4 linked regions of the Homo sapiens genome follow. The protein of the gene in region 2 interacts with the protein of the main gene of each other region in a pairwise test. Each region holds a gene or a part of one and is shown on either strand. Other genes may lie near its edges. The genes, in order: MYOZ2, PDLIM3, MYOT and MYPN.

Region 1 (3,923 bases), about 66 Mb from region 2:
ACATTCTAGTGAAAGAGACCCTAAACATAAACATATACAAAAATATCTGATGGTGATAGCAGCTATGCATAAAGTTAAAATAGGGTGTTATAATATTGAATAACTGAATTACTAAAAAGTTATTTCAGATAGAATCACCAGGGAAGACTTCTCTGAAGAGGCGACATTTAAACAGCCATCTGAAGGTCAGAAGTTAGACATGTACAGTATGGCTAAAGTACATCAGCACTTCCAGTAGACAGGATAGCTAATGCCAAGAACCCTAAGGCAGAAATAATGTTGGCGTGTTCAAGGAAACAAAGAAGGCTTATGTTCCTAGGCTAGCAGGTGAGGGTGGGGCAGAGGGAACAGGGGACAGAGAGGTAAACTTGTGTGGGACTTTTTCTAAATAAGGAATATGGATTTCCTTCTAAATGTGAAGGGCAACCATTGTAGGATGGTAAGCAGGAGATTATATAACCTAATTACATTTTATAAGGGTCATTCTGGCTGCTATTGCTGTGTGAACAGATTATAAGAAGACAACAGTGCCAGTGGTTCGCACCTGTAATCCCAGCACTTTGGGAGGAGAAGGTGGATGGATCACCTGAGGTCGGGAGTTCGAGACCAGCCTGACCAACATGGAGAAACCCATCTCTACTAAAAATACAAAAAATTAGCAGGGCATGGTGGCGCATGCCTGTAATCCCAGCTACTCAGGAGGCTGAGGCAGGAGAATCCCTTGAACCCAGGAGGTGGAGGTTTCAGTGAGCCGAGATCGTGCCATTGTACTCCAGCCTGGACAATAAGAGGGAAACTCAGTCTCGGAAAAAAAAAAAAAAAGACAACAGTGGAAGGAGGGAAGCTATTGCAGTAACTCAAGCAAGAAATGATGACTTGTATTTCAGGTGTTTTATGTAAAGATGGAAAAAAGTGGGTGGGTCAGGATGTGCTTTACAGGTAGAGTCAACAGGATTTGCTGATAAATTGGATTAAAACCATGAAGAAAATAGAAAAATCAATGAAAACTCCTACCTTTAGAGTTTTAGCAACTGGCTGGTGGAAGACAGAAAAGAACAGAGTTGGTGTGTGGGTGGAAAACACGATTAGACATCCCAGTGGAGAGGTCAATCATGCAGGTTTTGCCCTATTCACTTTCACGCATCCTTTAACTGCTTGCTCTTTGCATTTATGCTCTCCTACCTCACTGCCTCTAATCATACTCTTTTTTTTTTCTCTCTCTGCTTGGAGTACTCTGATATTTACAACTGCGTTTCTAAATCCCCTTTAAGCCCTAATTCATACTTAACTTTCTTCTTGAAGCTTTCCCAATTTCCCACAGCCAGAAGTAAGCTTTCCACTCCGAAGTTTCCATGACTTCTATTTTCACCTCCCCTGCGATCCTATTTTATATCTTTCATTATATCCATTTGTATGTCTGCCTTTTTTCTTACCAGACTGTACTCTAAGAAGATTGGAATTCTCTCTGATGTATCTTTGTAATTCGTTACAATATACTTATATAATGCATTGTACCATAGGACCTGGCAAGACTATATAGATTCTCTAATATTGTGATTATTTAAAACCTGGAAGAGATCTTATTTTCTTTATAGTTCAATCACTCTGCTATCTTTCTTGACTACCTTAATTTCTGTGTGTTTTTTTATTAAAGAATTAATTAAAACATAAATATGTATAGTCTGCTACAAATTTGATTCTATTACTTTCGTTTCAATTAAATTTTTCCCTCCCCAAACAGATTTTAGTCTGTAAAAAGGAAAGTCATATTCAATTTCATTTGTATATTCCCATTGCATCTGTTACAGCAAGGGTCCCCAACCCTCAGGCTGCAGACCAACCATCTATGGCCTGTTAGGAACCAGGTCACACAGCAGAAGGTGAGCGGAGGGTGAGTGAGCATTTCCACCTGAGCTCCACCTCCTGTCAGGTCATCAGGGGCATTAGATTCTCATAGGAGTGCAAACCCTCTTGTGAACTTTGCATGTGAGGGATCAAGGTTGCAGGCTCCTTACGAGAATCTAACTAATGCCTGATGATCTGAAGTGGAATAGTTTCATCCCGAAACCATCTCCCCCCACCCTGCCACCCCTACACCCCTTCCCCCATTCTTGGAAACATTGTCTTCCACGAAACTGGTCCCTGGTGCCAGAAAGGTTGGGGACCATTGTATTACAGTGTCATGCAACTTCCTTATTAGAAGTTGCCTTTTTGTGACTGATAACTACTCTGTCCTTCCTGAGGTACCATGATCCAGGTTGAGGATGCAGAAGGAGACTTAATTCACTAGAAAGGCCTGTGTAAGAAGCAATCAGACTGCTGGAAGTAGAGTAAAGCCAACTATACTTCAAGCATCAGGCATTACATCCTTTATCCAGCCAATTTGCTAGAAGCTAAATATGTTTGTTGCTGACAATAGTTACCATAGCCAGTGAGAACTGCAGGTGAACTGTGTCACATTTTGTTTCAAAATTATTTCAGTGGCATGAGAAATGTTTTCTGTTGCTTTTAACTTGCAATATAATTTGACACTTTCCTCTTTTAAGAAGTTTTTATTATGCACAGTGGAGAAAATAATCCCAAAAGCTTCTGAATACTGTATTAGGTTAGGTCAGAAGCCTAAAATTTGAAATTTTATAATGTTGATTTGAAAATTTACTATCAAACTTCTAAAACAATAAAGTCGTGTTTTATAATATTTACTAGATACTCTGTTCTTCAGTGTACTGTTTGAACTCTGCAATATTTACAGTTTTATAATAATACATTCCTAAAATTCAGTTTATATAAATTAAATCAGATTCCAAATTTGCTAAATTTATGTTCTTTTTTTCATGTATGTAACTTATAGTTGTTCATTCTTTTCTGTATGTATTAAATTCTGGGCTCTTGCCTGCAGAATGTTTAATACATATATACTCCTCAAGATAGCCTCCAAATTCCACCTCTTCAGTACTATGCCATAGTTTTTGTAGTAAGTTGATATGCCTCCATCACATATATTTTATCCATCTAAGGAAACCAAATGGCTATTTTGAGTAGCCACTATTTTCCAGGAATATGCTGGAAGCAAGTAAGTGGAAATGAAAGTCATGGTTTTTACTCTCAAAGAACTTGTAATCTACTGAGAAGACAATAAAATGTTATGTTATTTTTCATAAGAAAGGCATACTAAATTATGTAGAATAACTCTCCCAGAATGCACAGGGAGCAGACAATATGATGAAAAGTAAAATAAACTAGAGTCCAGATGAGGATATTCAAGCTTCCAGAGGAAGAAAACAGAGCATTATGATCACAATCATGAACCAAAGATATGGAAAACAACTCTCCTGAGTTGAAGGAAGAAGAGATTATAGAGGAAAAGGAGTTACCAAGTACTAGACAAAGTTAACAAGAAAAAATAAAAAGATGCTACCTGGACATTCCTTGTCAGAATTTTAATGTTTTTAATATAATGAGCCATACAGGGAGGGAAGCCAGAAGGAATGTATAAAAGGAATGAATATGAGGCTGTCCATAATCTTTTCCAAAACATTACATACCAAAAAAGAGTATTGAATAGGTGTTGTGGAGAAAAGACTGTGACCAGGTAATTATTCATGTACCAATGTAAAAAATATATATGTATTATAGATATGCATGGACTTATATTGGTGTTCCCTTCCTAAGAGAATTACTTGAAGACATATTCCAGATAACTTTTGGATAAATAACTCAAGTAGCATAATATAAAAAGTACTGGCAATAAGAATAAAGCCACTTTAAAAATGTGGTCATAGGCTGGGCACAATGGCTCATGCCTATAATCCCAGCACTTTGGGAGGCCGAGGCAAGCAGATCACCTGAGGTCAGCAGTTCGAAACCAGCCTGGCCAACATGGTGAAACCCCGTCTCTACTAAAAAAATACAAAAATTAGCTG
Region 2 (3,923 bases):
CCCTCCAGTTCCTTTCATCCATTTGTCAGCTATTTATTGAGCTGTGGGCTATTTATTGAGCTGGAGGGACTCAGAGGGAAGACAACAGCCTCAAGGTTCCTGCCTTCATGAACATATTCTCTGTCCTGCTCACTCCTTTTGGGGCTTATTTTCTCCTACTTTTGCTTTTAGTGGATTTTAGATTCAGACTCTACCTTCCCTTTAGTCAAAACTCTACGACAACAATCTAATAAACTCATTTCCTCTAAAGATTACATTACTCAGGATCCTTCTTCTCCAGGAGAGATTATATTTTAACTGAAAATAAAGCTTTGTTCCATTTGTCACGACCCTCGTAATAGCAATGAAGAAGGCATTCCTAGCCTCTAGGATGTCCTATCATGTAGGCAGCTAACTATCTCACCAGCAAGAAACGCCAGGAGACTTTCGGATCCCAGCCTGGGGTGGGGGTAACGTACTGATAATAAGGACAGCTACCACTTACTTGAGTATTTCTATGAATAACTCAATGTGCCAACTTCTCTGCTTGTATTATTTTATTCTAATTTTTGAGAAGCCCTAGGAGACACATGTACTGATGTTATTCAACATCTTTTCACAAAAGAAATCAGAGGCTTATGGAGACAAGTAGAAAACTTGAAGGACAAATTCAGGAGTTGATTTTCTTGAAAGGGGAAATACTGCTAAACATAAATTACAAATACGTTTTCAGTTCCCTTTCATCAGTTATATAGAACAACTACATGCTGGGAATATCTAATCAGTTTAGCAGGAACATGTGTTTCAAAAGGGATGGTAAATTCATGTATCTGTATCTCTAAACCTTTAGAGCTTCTATGTAGAGGTCATAAAATGCTTTTCTTAATTAGATTTATGAGTACATCACAATCAAGATTTGATTTAATTTCAGGTTTTTTGGGCCTTTTGAAAGTAGACATAGATAAGCATCAGATGATTAGTTTAGTTTATTACAGTTGCCTCCAGAGAAAATCCTTTATCTTTTATAATTCAGCTGTAACGGCAGAATATCACCATCATCACACTAGGCAACACTCTTTTCTTAGAGTAAATTTAATTACAGAATCCCAGAAATGAGAATTAAAGAAGAATGTAGAATGAGATCTGGGTGAAGACCTCGAAGGACTGAAATTCACAGTAACCGTAGATTGGAGACACCTGTTTCAAATGGTAGACCTTATTTTTGCTTTGCTTTGTTTTAACAACTTAAACTCCTTAGATTACCTCACGGTCATTTCACAGAAGTCCATTATAAGAAATGAAAAAATAATAAGTGGACTCTGTAGATTTAGCCAAATTCTTTCTGATGGGAGCATATTTTGTCTTTCAACAAGATGTTCACATAGGAACACTTCTTTTTCTTGATGTAAGAAAACACGGATAATATAAATTAATCTCGGAGAGGAATGACAGACAACAGCTTCATAGGTGGCTTGTTCCAATTTTTCTATTTGTCTCTTCCTCCCCTTGGAAGGCATCCCCATGATTTAAAAGGAAATACAATGTGTATCATTTGCTCTAAAACGCATACCTGTGGTTCTGATTCTAAGTTGATTTTGAAAGGATGGGCTTTCCCATCTTCAGATACTTGTGGAGACCATAAGTGAGTTTCTCCCCTGGAAATAAAATAAAATTTGTAAACTTCAAATTCTAATGGTACTTTCAGTTTTAGCATACTTTAGTTTCCCATTATGTTTGTGAAAATACTAGCAAACCTCACTAACTTATGCAAAAACAATTTTTTTTTTTGCTGATTATTCTGTATTTTCCCACATAATTAGTCTTCCCCCCCCCTTTTTTTTTCTTTTAATGTTGTCTCCCTCTGTCAACCAGGCTGGAGTGCAGTGGCAAAATCTTGACTCACTGCAACCTCCTCCTTCTGGGTCCAAGCGATTCTCCTCCCTCAGCTTCCCGAGTAGCTGGGATTACAGGTGCCCACCACCATGCCTGGCTAATTTTTGTATTTTTAGTAGAGACGGGGTTTCACCAGTTGGCCAGGCTGGTCATGAACTCTGGACCTCAAGTGATCCGCCCAGTTCGGCCTCCCAAAGCGCTAGGATTACAGGCGGGAGCCACCACACCCGGCCGAAGTCGTACATTTTTAATGTCCTTTTGGGTATGGCAGACTAGATAAAAATTGCCTGGAGTACACTGCACAGTTTCTGGAGGAAGGAGGCCTGCAAGGCATGTGGGAAACAGGAGAGGGAGACTCTGCAGGCACACTCTGCAGATGACCACCAGGCAAGCTCCCTAGACCTCCCTACTTCCCTCCAGTCCTACTGAGGCCACTGCAGAAGACAGTGAGTGATCTGCCAGGTGGATGTGTTACTGGCATCAAGGAAATGTGCTTTGTCCAACCCTTCTCATGCATCTGCCTGGGACCTAGTGGCTCCTAAGGGACTGTGTGCTCGGCATGAACACAGGTTATGCATAGAGAGTGAAAGAATCTATTTCACCCCAAGGAAACGGCAGATTGGTGGATTGATTGATCCTTCTGTACCACAGCACGGAAAACTGTGAGTACAATCATAACAGGATAAACACACACTAACAACCACTATAACAAATTATTATTATCATGGTTCAGTTTTGGATCAGGGATCTGATGGCAAGAGATCAGGCTCAATTTCTTAGTGTTTTTGGGGGGTGGGGTCAGAAACATCTCAGTATTTCACATGCCCACGTGCATATGCACTCTCACACCTGTAACATTCTTCTGGGCTGAATTCTGTACAAAACAGCCAATGGCAGACAGGATATTAGCAACCAGTTTTAATATAATTACAGTCAGGCAAGTCAAGAGATTATTTCAGGGGAATCTCTCCATTCCATTCCATTCCATTCCATTCTCTACCACACTGAGAACAGTGATATAACTAGTTGTGTTGTTCAGTGTTTATGTGGCTAATAGTTCTATTTTCATAGTTAATTAACCGGGTTATTACTGGAACAAATTCTTTTAGCCTCTTTTATTATTCTAACATTCCAGAGAATCCTTTTTAGAAATGATTTGTCAACAACTGCTAGATTGACTGACTTTAGTAAAGAATTAAGTAGCTAATATATAAAAAGTCAGCCAAAATACTAGGTCTGTGGCCCTCCTTGCTGGGAGGATGAAGTTATTTATAGTTCTGGTTCAGGTTCTCCTGCAAAACAGATCAGATTTAAGCACCATTAGTTAAGAAGCACCTGTCAATTTTGAGACACAGCTGGTGAGCTGCTGCTTTAATCCTGTCCTGCGCATCAGCATGAGTCATGGACTCTGTCCCAAAGCCGTCAATAGCCAGGATGACATCTCCAGGACACAGGTTGGCAGCTGCCGCCTTGCTTCCTGGTGTAATCTGGAAGAAATCATGGCACTATTTAAAAACCAACATCCCGCAGTATCTTGAGTTTTGTGCCTGACATTTGTGTTTCAGCCTGGTAACATTTTAAATGTTTAATTGGGCAGAAAGACTGTAAATCTAACTAAAGATAACTCTTAGTTGGTCAGTTGAGTTAGGTCTATTTTCTCATCCTGCTGAATGATTTTGTTTCTTACTAACCACATTTCATATCCTTGTATCTGTTACTCTCTTTTAAAACATCTTACATAATTCCCAGTGTGAATCATACATTTTTTTGTTTTAAAAAATTATTTTTTATTTTTCATCACCCAGAAGTCTCTATTTGGGAATAGAGTTTTACTATATTTAGGCATCTTTTACATTCAGGTTGAAACTGCTTTCAATCCAAATATAGCAATCCTTACTATTTATCATCTTTAAAATTCACGTAAGAGGCATGCAATGGACTTTTTATCTCCCCCCAAAACTCAAATGTTGAAATCCTAACCACAATGTGATGGTATTTGGAGGAGGGACTTTTGGGGGGTAATTAGGTCAGAAGTGAGGAGCCCTCATGAA
Region 3 (3,923 bases), on a different chromosome or scaffold from region 2:
TTTCATTTATAATCTTAATTTCTGTCCTATTGGAGGTTCACAACCCATATATTCCCTGTCCGTGTAGACACCATAGAGAGTCCTAGGTCTAACTGACCCATAAATGTCCTGATAAAAAATAATACCATTAGACTTCTTGTGTTTTGATTTTGTGACGTTGTGTATCCAGGTATTAGAACTACCAGAAAATGGGGTAAAATGTGGTAAAATTATGTATATATGTTTATCATGGCCTCTTTATGTATCCAGTGGTGGATGGAACTGACCGACTTTTATTTCAGATGCTATTTATAAGCATTTAGAAAAGCAGACATTTAAAAATCGCACAGAATAAAAATACTCCACTTAGAGCATTTTAACTTACCTGCGAGTCTTGTGCACCACTGTCATCCTGAGCTTGAAACACAGCAGCTGCATTCTGTGGTCCTAGCAATCTGCGAGCCATCTTCTCTTCATATGTTAGACGCTTTAGAGAATTTATTGAGACAGTAATTAGATTTAATAAAAGATGTTTGTACAGGTTTACCTTAAAACCACTACTATAGGTCAGAACTTCAAAGAAGCATAGTTCTATCTATTGAATGATAGATTCTATTTTTTTTTTTTTTTTTTTTTTTTGAGACGGAGTCTTACTCCGTCGCCCAGGCTGGAGTGCAGTGGCACAATCTCGGCTCACTGCAACCTCCGCCTCCTGGGTTCACGCCATTCTCCTGCCTCAGCCTCCTGAGTAGCTGGGACTACAGGCGCCTGCCACAATGCCCAGCTAATTTTTTGTATTTTTAGTAGAGACGGGGTTTCACTGTGTCAGCCAGGATGGTCTTGATCTCCTGACCTTGTGATCCACCCGCCTCGGCCTCCCCAAGTGCTGGGATTATAGGCGTGAGCCACTGCGCTCGGCTGATTCTATTTTTTTTTTTTTAAAGTCTTTTCTTCCATTCAAAGCATTTTCCTTCTATTCTAGTACCATTTCCCTCACTTGCAGTAAAGGTTCACTTAGGCTTTCTTTTTGCTCCTATGACAGGCAAGCATAATCACTCTTAAATAAGGATCTCCTAAGTAAAGGGAAATTCAACCCTTTCCTCCGTTGTTCTGCATGTTCCAGTCAGCTTTGTTTTTGAATATAATACTTCATGTGCTCACATTCAGAAGTAATTTTTATTTAATTTTAATTAATTAATTTTTGAGACAGAGTCTCACTCTGTCGCCCAGGCTGGAGTGCAGTGGCACGATCTTGGCTCATGGCGACCTACGCCTCCTGGGTTCAAGCAATTCTCCTTTCTCAGCCTCCTAAGTAGCTGGAACTACAGGTGCATGCCACCACACCTGGCTAATTTTTTATTTTTAGTAGAGATGGAGTTTCACCATATTGGTCTGGCTGTTCTCGAACTCCTAACCTTGGTGATCCACCTGCCTTGGCCTCCCAAAGTGCTGGGATTACAGACGTGAGCCACTGCACCCAGCCAGAAGTAACTTTTATTAAATGAGCACTGAATATTTGATTGTACTAACTTCTGATTGAGAGCAGTCCAACTGATAGGCTAAATGTATTTGTATTAAAGGCATATAGTACTGTTTAAAGATAAGTTACTAATATAATATACACAATAAGGACTACATGATAAGAATTATAGCAATAATTACCTGTCAGTGTTATACATCAAAGTACACTAAGTTGACTTGACAGTAATTCCTAATAGCTATTTGGGCATCAGACATATTTTATGAGAGGGTAATATTTAATAACAGAAAAATTTCATTAAACCATTCAGATACATTTTTCATTTGCTTCATTCTTTTACTACTGTAAACCAAGAGGTGATTTCATGCAGAGAGAAATGGAATAGGGCCCAAATATTCCTTCTTTTTAGATAATCTTATTCCTTGTTGATATATGGACCTAGATCTGTGAGCTAGAACTTCCTTATTAAAATTAGATTTTATAGTTTAATTGGCCTTTTGTACAAAATAGACATCTTGCCCACTTGATTTCCATTATGAAGAAGGGTGTCCTTGCATTTCAGCTTTCTTTCCAAATCTTGAATCAAAGCTTCTTTTGATCCTTGTATTTCATGATCAGGAGTTCTTGGTATGGGCTTAGCATTTGCAGTTTGGGATGGCTTTGCATTTATAGGTTGGCCAGCTGAGGACTGTTGATAGCTTTAAAAAGGAAAAAGAAAAGATTTTTAAAAAGAAGGTCTTGGCCTCATTTTGCAAATTACCTTTAGATATGTTGAGTTTACCACTTAGTACTACTAGTATTATTAAAAACAAATTGCCCTAATAACAGTCAAGAAATATTTTATAAGAATGGTTACTATCTTTTTTTTTTCCTTTTGGCAAATGGAAATTAAGTGTCAGGAGGAAGAATTTAGATTAGACATAAGGAGGATGTCCTTCCTTGAAGATATTCCCTAAGGAATGTGAGAGTAAGTCTAGTTAGTGGCAGCTTGAGAGCTCTTCCAATCTTATGAGTAATTTCTTTAATAAAATTTTTTTTTAGATTCTGGGAGTACATGTGCATGTTTGTTACATGGGTATATTGTATGATGCTGGGGTTTGGCCTTCTAATGATTCTGTCACCCAAGAGGTGAACATAGTACCTGATAGTTAGTTTTTGAACCCTTTTCCACCTCTTTCCCTGCTTTCGGGATCTCCAGTGTTTATTGTTTTCATCTTTGTGTTCATATGTACCCAATGTTTAGCTCCCACTTATAAATGAGAACATGCTCTATTTTATTTTCTGTTTCTGTGTTAGTTTGCTTAGGATAGTGGCCTCAAGCTGCATCCGTGTTGCTGCAAAGGACGTAATTTTGTTCTTTGTTATAGCTACGATGACCGAATTTCTTGTTTGATTTATGGGTAGATATTAAGTGGTGGTATTCTGGAGCTGGTTCATATGGGCTGATTTTTAGCATCTTTTCCCAGCTTCCTATGATTTCATGTTATAGTTTGAAATTGGTTGTGGTGGAAATATTTACACCAGGGAAATCGGTAAATATCACAAATAATGGCTCTTTTGTCCAGTGATTGTTAGACATTTACCAGCACACCACTGGCTTTTAGTGAATAATCTTTTGCTTTGAATGGAGTCTACACAGTCATTGACTTTCCTGTAATTTCCAATTCCTATTAATTTCATATTCTAGAAAATCCAAGTATGGCACTATATAACAGCAAATAACTTCTAAAGTAATGACAGTTTCTTCAATACTACTGAAGTGATTTTTAGAGAAAAAATGGGATGATTTGAGGAAGGAGAAAGAAATGTAAACTGGAAAAAAGCAAATAAAGTCTTTATTTCAAATTTTGATCCTAAATTTTTTCTATGATGTCCTTGCCCCTCCCGTATTTCCCTTGTTGATTCTGATAGAGGATAGGGTGGTATTTAGAGAGTCCTGTATTTTTAGATCTGTTAGGTAGCTTAAATGTATCACAGTGCTTTATTCAGTTTTTACCTAGTTTATCCATTCAGAGCCCTGCAGGGGCTAATCTTTATTTTTAATTTTTATTTATTTTTTTGAGATGGAGTCCCGCTCTGTTGCCCAGGCTGGAGTGCAGTGGCGCGATCTCGGCTCACTGCAACCTCTGCCTCCCGGGTTCAGGTGATTCTCCTGTCTCAGCCTCCCAAGTAGCTGGGATTACAGGCACCCGCCACCATGCTCAGCTAATTTTTGAATTTTTAGTAGAGACGGGGTTTTGCCATGTTGGCCAGGCTGGTCTCAAACTGCTGACCTCTGGTAATCTGCCTGCCTGGGCCTCCCAAAGTTCTGGGATTACAGGCTTGAGCCACCGCACCCGGCCTGCAGGGACTAATCTTTATTAATCTATTTAATGTGAGGAAACTAGCCACTGCCCTCAATGAGTATTTTACCATTATTATAATAAATGTTCTCTGGCTATCCAGATGAGACAATCTTGGTCTC
Region 4 (3,500 bases), on a different chromosome or scaffold from region 2:
TTTCCAGGTGTGACTTATTCTTGCAGATTAATTATCCTTAAATCCTCCCTTTCATCTTGTTACTTCCCTATACATAACCTTAAATGGTTTCCAGTTTGTTTTGAAACCAAGTCTGAACTACTCTGCTTTGCTTTCAAGGTTCTTCGAAGTCATCTGACTCTACTCTCCTTTCCAGTTTGGTCAGTGTCCTCTCTGCTATATAAAAAATATTATTATAATTAGAGCGTCTGTGCCTTTCCATAAACATGCTGAAGTGACCTGGCCTGAAAGGACCCATTCCTTCCACCTACCTCTTCAACCTTATCTCTAATCTTTCTTACCTTTACCCTATGTTCTTGACATAGATGAGTACTTATGGTTCCCTGATAACACTTGCCTCGGGAGCTTTGCACTTGCTTTCCCCTCTACCCTTGGCCTCCTCTACCTCCTGTGTTAACACTTCCTTTATCATGCACTCCAGGCCAAGCAACTCATATACTCTTTTAAGCCACCACTGCCTCCTCTACAGACTCCTGTCATAGCCCTTATTACATAATACTGCAGTGATTGATTTGTTTGCTGTCTGCCTGATTCCTAGCTATTAGATTGTGAGCCACCCTCTCAGAAGAGTTTAGATTTGGTTTCAAAACAAGATTTATGACCTCCACTAGCTCACAATTGTTTTGTACTCCCAGTGAATCACTTTAGTAACTCAATTGATATTTGTTGAATGAGTAAATAAGAAACTTTCTACCTAAATTTTCACTATTCAAAGTTCAAGTAAAATCCTCCTACATCTCTGAAGACTTCTTTGACTTTTCTAGTCCTTCACTCCTTCTCTGACACCTGACACTACTTAAAGTTTGTACTATAAAAATTAGGATTATTTCTTTAACTGTATTGCAAGCTCCTTGAAGGCAGGGATGCATATTTATATTGTGTCTGTCATTGCATTGATCACTGTGCCGAACACACAGTAAAAACTAACTAAATAAATACATATTTGCTTTCTGATTGGAGTTATATAAATTCTGTGCTTAGGAAAATGGCAGCTAATAGTCTACTCGGACAATTCTAATTCTATTCTTAATCTAATTGCAGTCATAAAATTAAGTACTAACTCATTCAGAAAATATTTAGCATATACCTACTAATTTCCTAGCATCCAACCAGTGGTTAGGATACAGGCATGATTGCTGTCAGTAAAGAAATTCTTCCCAGGAAAAATTAGCATTGCTACATGGAAACTGTGTACATTTCTTTCACTTTTAAATTTGAAGATTTGCAAATTTTTAGTTGGCTGATTAAATGGTTTCTGAGTGGCCACCAGATTACTTTGCTTTGTGGGGAATGTCTTCCTAATTGACATTTCTTAGTGGTGCATTGAATTCATTCTTGTATCTGAGATTGTCATGGTTGAAAAATGAGTAGGATGAGACCTGAATGATCTGGTCTAATTTTTGTTTTAATCAATCTATGTCCAGAAACTAATGGATTGGACAGGACTAACCTAAGTTTTGTGTATATCACAACTGGAGTGCTCACCAGCTTACTTAGACTGACCAGATGCTGCTGAGTAGTAGCTGTCATGGGGCTGTAGTGACATCTCACTAGCATTACCAACCAGAGTCCCAGGGAGTATCATCAGGCACGTTCAGAGCAGAAGAGTAGACACCGCCCTGTGTTTTTCAGTTCCAACCCTTTGCTACATCTTAGGCCAACGGTCTCACTTCTGATTTAAATCTAAGTTGAGTTTCTTGTTTTCCTGTTTCTTTATCCACTAGCTCATTCAACATTTCTGAGTGGCTACCATGAGCCCAAAGCTGTGCTCAGTGCTCAAGACACAAAGGTAAAAACAACAGAATCCCTGCCCTCAAGGAGGTCAGCAGGATAACCTAATAGTCAAATGTATCTGCCACTGTAGAAATAATATTTGGCATTGCCTTATGTCGCCTTTGAAAAGCAAAAATCAATATATGAATATGTCTTTGGGCCAGAATCCCTTGAATTAATATGCCTATATATAAACAAAAATGCTATTATTAATACTACTATTGTCCTATAATTGAATATTATGGAATAAAAAGATGATGCCCAGATGCCCTATTTACATACAGAGAATAAATGTTAAATAGTAATGAAATCATATTCTAGTAATAATCAGGTAGTTACAAACACAAAGTAACTCTTGTAGGACTCTAAATACCAGGAATTCTCTACAAAAGTAATCCACTTCAACCACATTTTTCACATGTTATTCCATTATAAAATCAAAAGTAGGACATGTTACCCTAGGGGCTAACGCTGGTTCCAGGTTTTGTGGGACCTGAAGCTCATAAATGTGGAAGGGCTCCTTTAAAAAGTAAAATAAACTTAGAATGCAAAATTAGGTATAGCCTAGTCAAGTGAGGCGTCCTGAAACTTGCACTGCATTTGCCTCACAGAAAAGCTGACCATGGTAGGCAAATAAAAGATGAATAACCTCTCTATCCATCAGTCATAGCTTTCATGAAGCTGACATGGAAAGTGTATAATACATTTAATACATGTATAATGAATCTTTAAATTGACTTTAGCCTCAGCCCAATTCTATAGGTTTTTATGCTATTATTTGGGTTTCTTTAAAGTTTAAAAAAATACTGCAGGTATTCATTGCATAGAGACCTTTTTTAGGCTATAAATTGTAGCCCTGCGCTGTCCAATACTGTAGTCATTAGACACATGCAGTTACTGGGCACTTGAAATGTGGCTCGTGCAACTAAATAACTGAATTTTTAATTATACTTATTTATTTATTTATTTATTTATTTATTTATTTATTTATTGAAGGAGTCTCGCTCTGTCGCCCAGGCTGGAGTGCAGTGGTGCAAGCTCGGCTTACAGCAAGTTCCGCCTCCCGGGTTCACGCCAGTCTCCTGCCTCAGCCTCTCAAGTAGCTGGGACTACAGGCGCCCGCCACCATGCTTGGCTAATTTTTTTTTTTTTTTTGTATTTTTAGTAGAGACCGGGTTTCACCTTTTTAGCCAGGATGGTCTCGATCTCCTGACCTCGTGATCCGCCCGCCTCAGCCTCCCAAAGTGCTGGGATTGCAGGCGTGAGCCACTGCGCCAGGCCTAATTTACTCATTTTGAGATGGAGCCTCCGCTCTGTAGCCCAGGCTGGAGTGCAGTGGTGCGATCTCGGCTCACTACAACCTCTGCCTCCCAAGTTCAAGAAATTCTCTCTGCCTAAGCCACCTGAATAGTTGGCATTACAGATGCCTGTTACCACGCCCGGCTAAATTTTTTTGTATTTTTAGTAGAGATGGGGTTTCGCCCTGTTGGCCAGGCTGGTCTTGAACTCCTGACCTCAAGTGATCTGCCTGCCTCGGCCTCCCAAAGTGCTGGGATTATACGCTGGAGCCACTGCGCCCGGCCAAAATGAAGGTTGTATTCCCTAGGAAAATTTAACATCCAAATTGAAATATGCTGTCAGTGTAGAATTCACGCCGAGTTTCAAATCCCTGGTATAATAAAAATAAT

The links.
Region 1: the proteins of PDLIM3 (region 2) and MYOZ2 interact in a two-hybrid assay, tested with the Homo sapiens proteins (one large-scale study listed by BioGRID and IntAct).
Region 3: the proteins of PDLIM3 (region 2) and MYOT interact in a two-hybrid assay, tested with the Homo sapiens proteins (one large-scale study listed by BioGRID and IntAct).
Region 4: the proteins of PDLIM3 (region 2) and MYPN interact in a two-hybrid assay, tested with the Homo sapiens proteins (one large-scale study listed by BioGRID and IntAct).

What each region holds. Positions count from the first base shown.
Region 1 is NC_000004.12:119,180,714-119,184,636, reverse strand, and holds part of MYOZ2 (myozenin-2), read right to left. Parts: intron 1-3,923.
Region 2 is NC_000004.12:185,521,813-185,525,735, forward strand, and holds part of PDLIM3 (PDZ and LIM domain protein 3), read right to left. Parts: intron 3,360-3,923; coding exon 3,208-3,359; intron 1,635-3,207; coding exon 1,550-1,634; intron 1-1,549. UniProt on the Homo sapiens protein: May play a role in the organization of actin filament arrays within muscle cells.
Region 3 is NC_000005.10:137,874,063-137,877,985, reverse strand, and holds part of MYOT (myotilin), read right to left. Parts: intron 2,158-3,923; coding exon 1,983-2,157; intron 467-1,982; coding exon 365-466; intron 1-364. UniProt on the Homo sapiens protein: Component of a complex of multiple actin cross-linking proteins. Involved in the control of myofibril assembly and stability at the Z lines in muscle cells.
Region 4 is NC_000010.11:68,122,988-68,126,487, reverse strand, and holds part of MYPN (myopalladin), read right to left. Parts: intron 1-3,500. UniProt on the Homo sapiens protein: Component of the sarcomere that tethers together nebulin (skeletal muscle) and nebulette (cardiac muscle) to alpha-actinin, at the Z lines.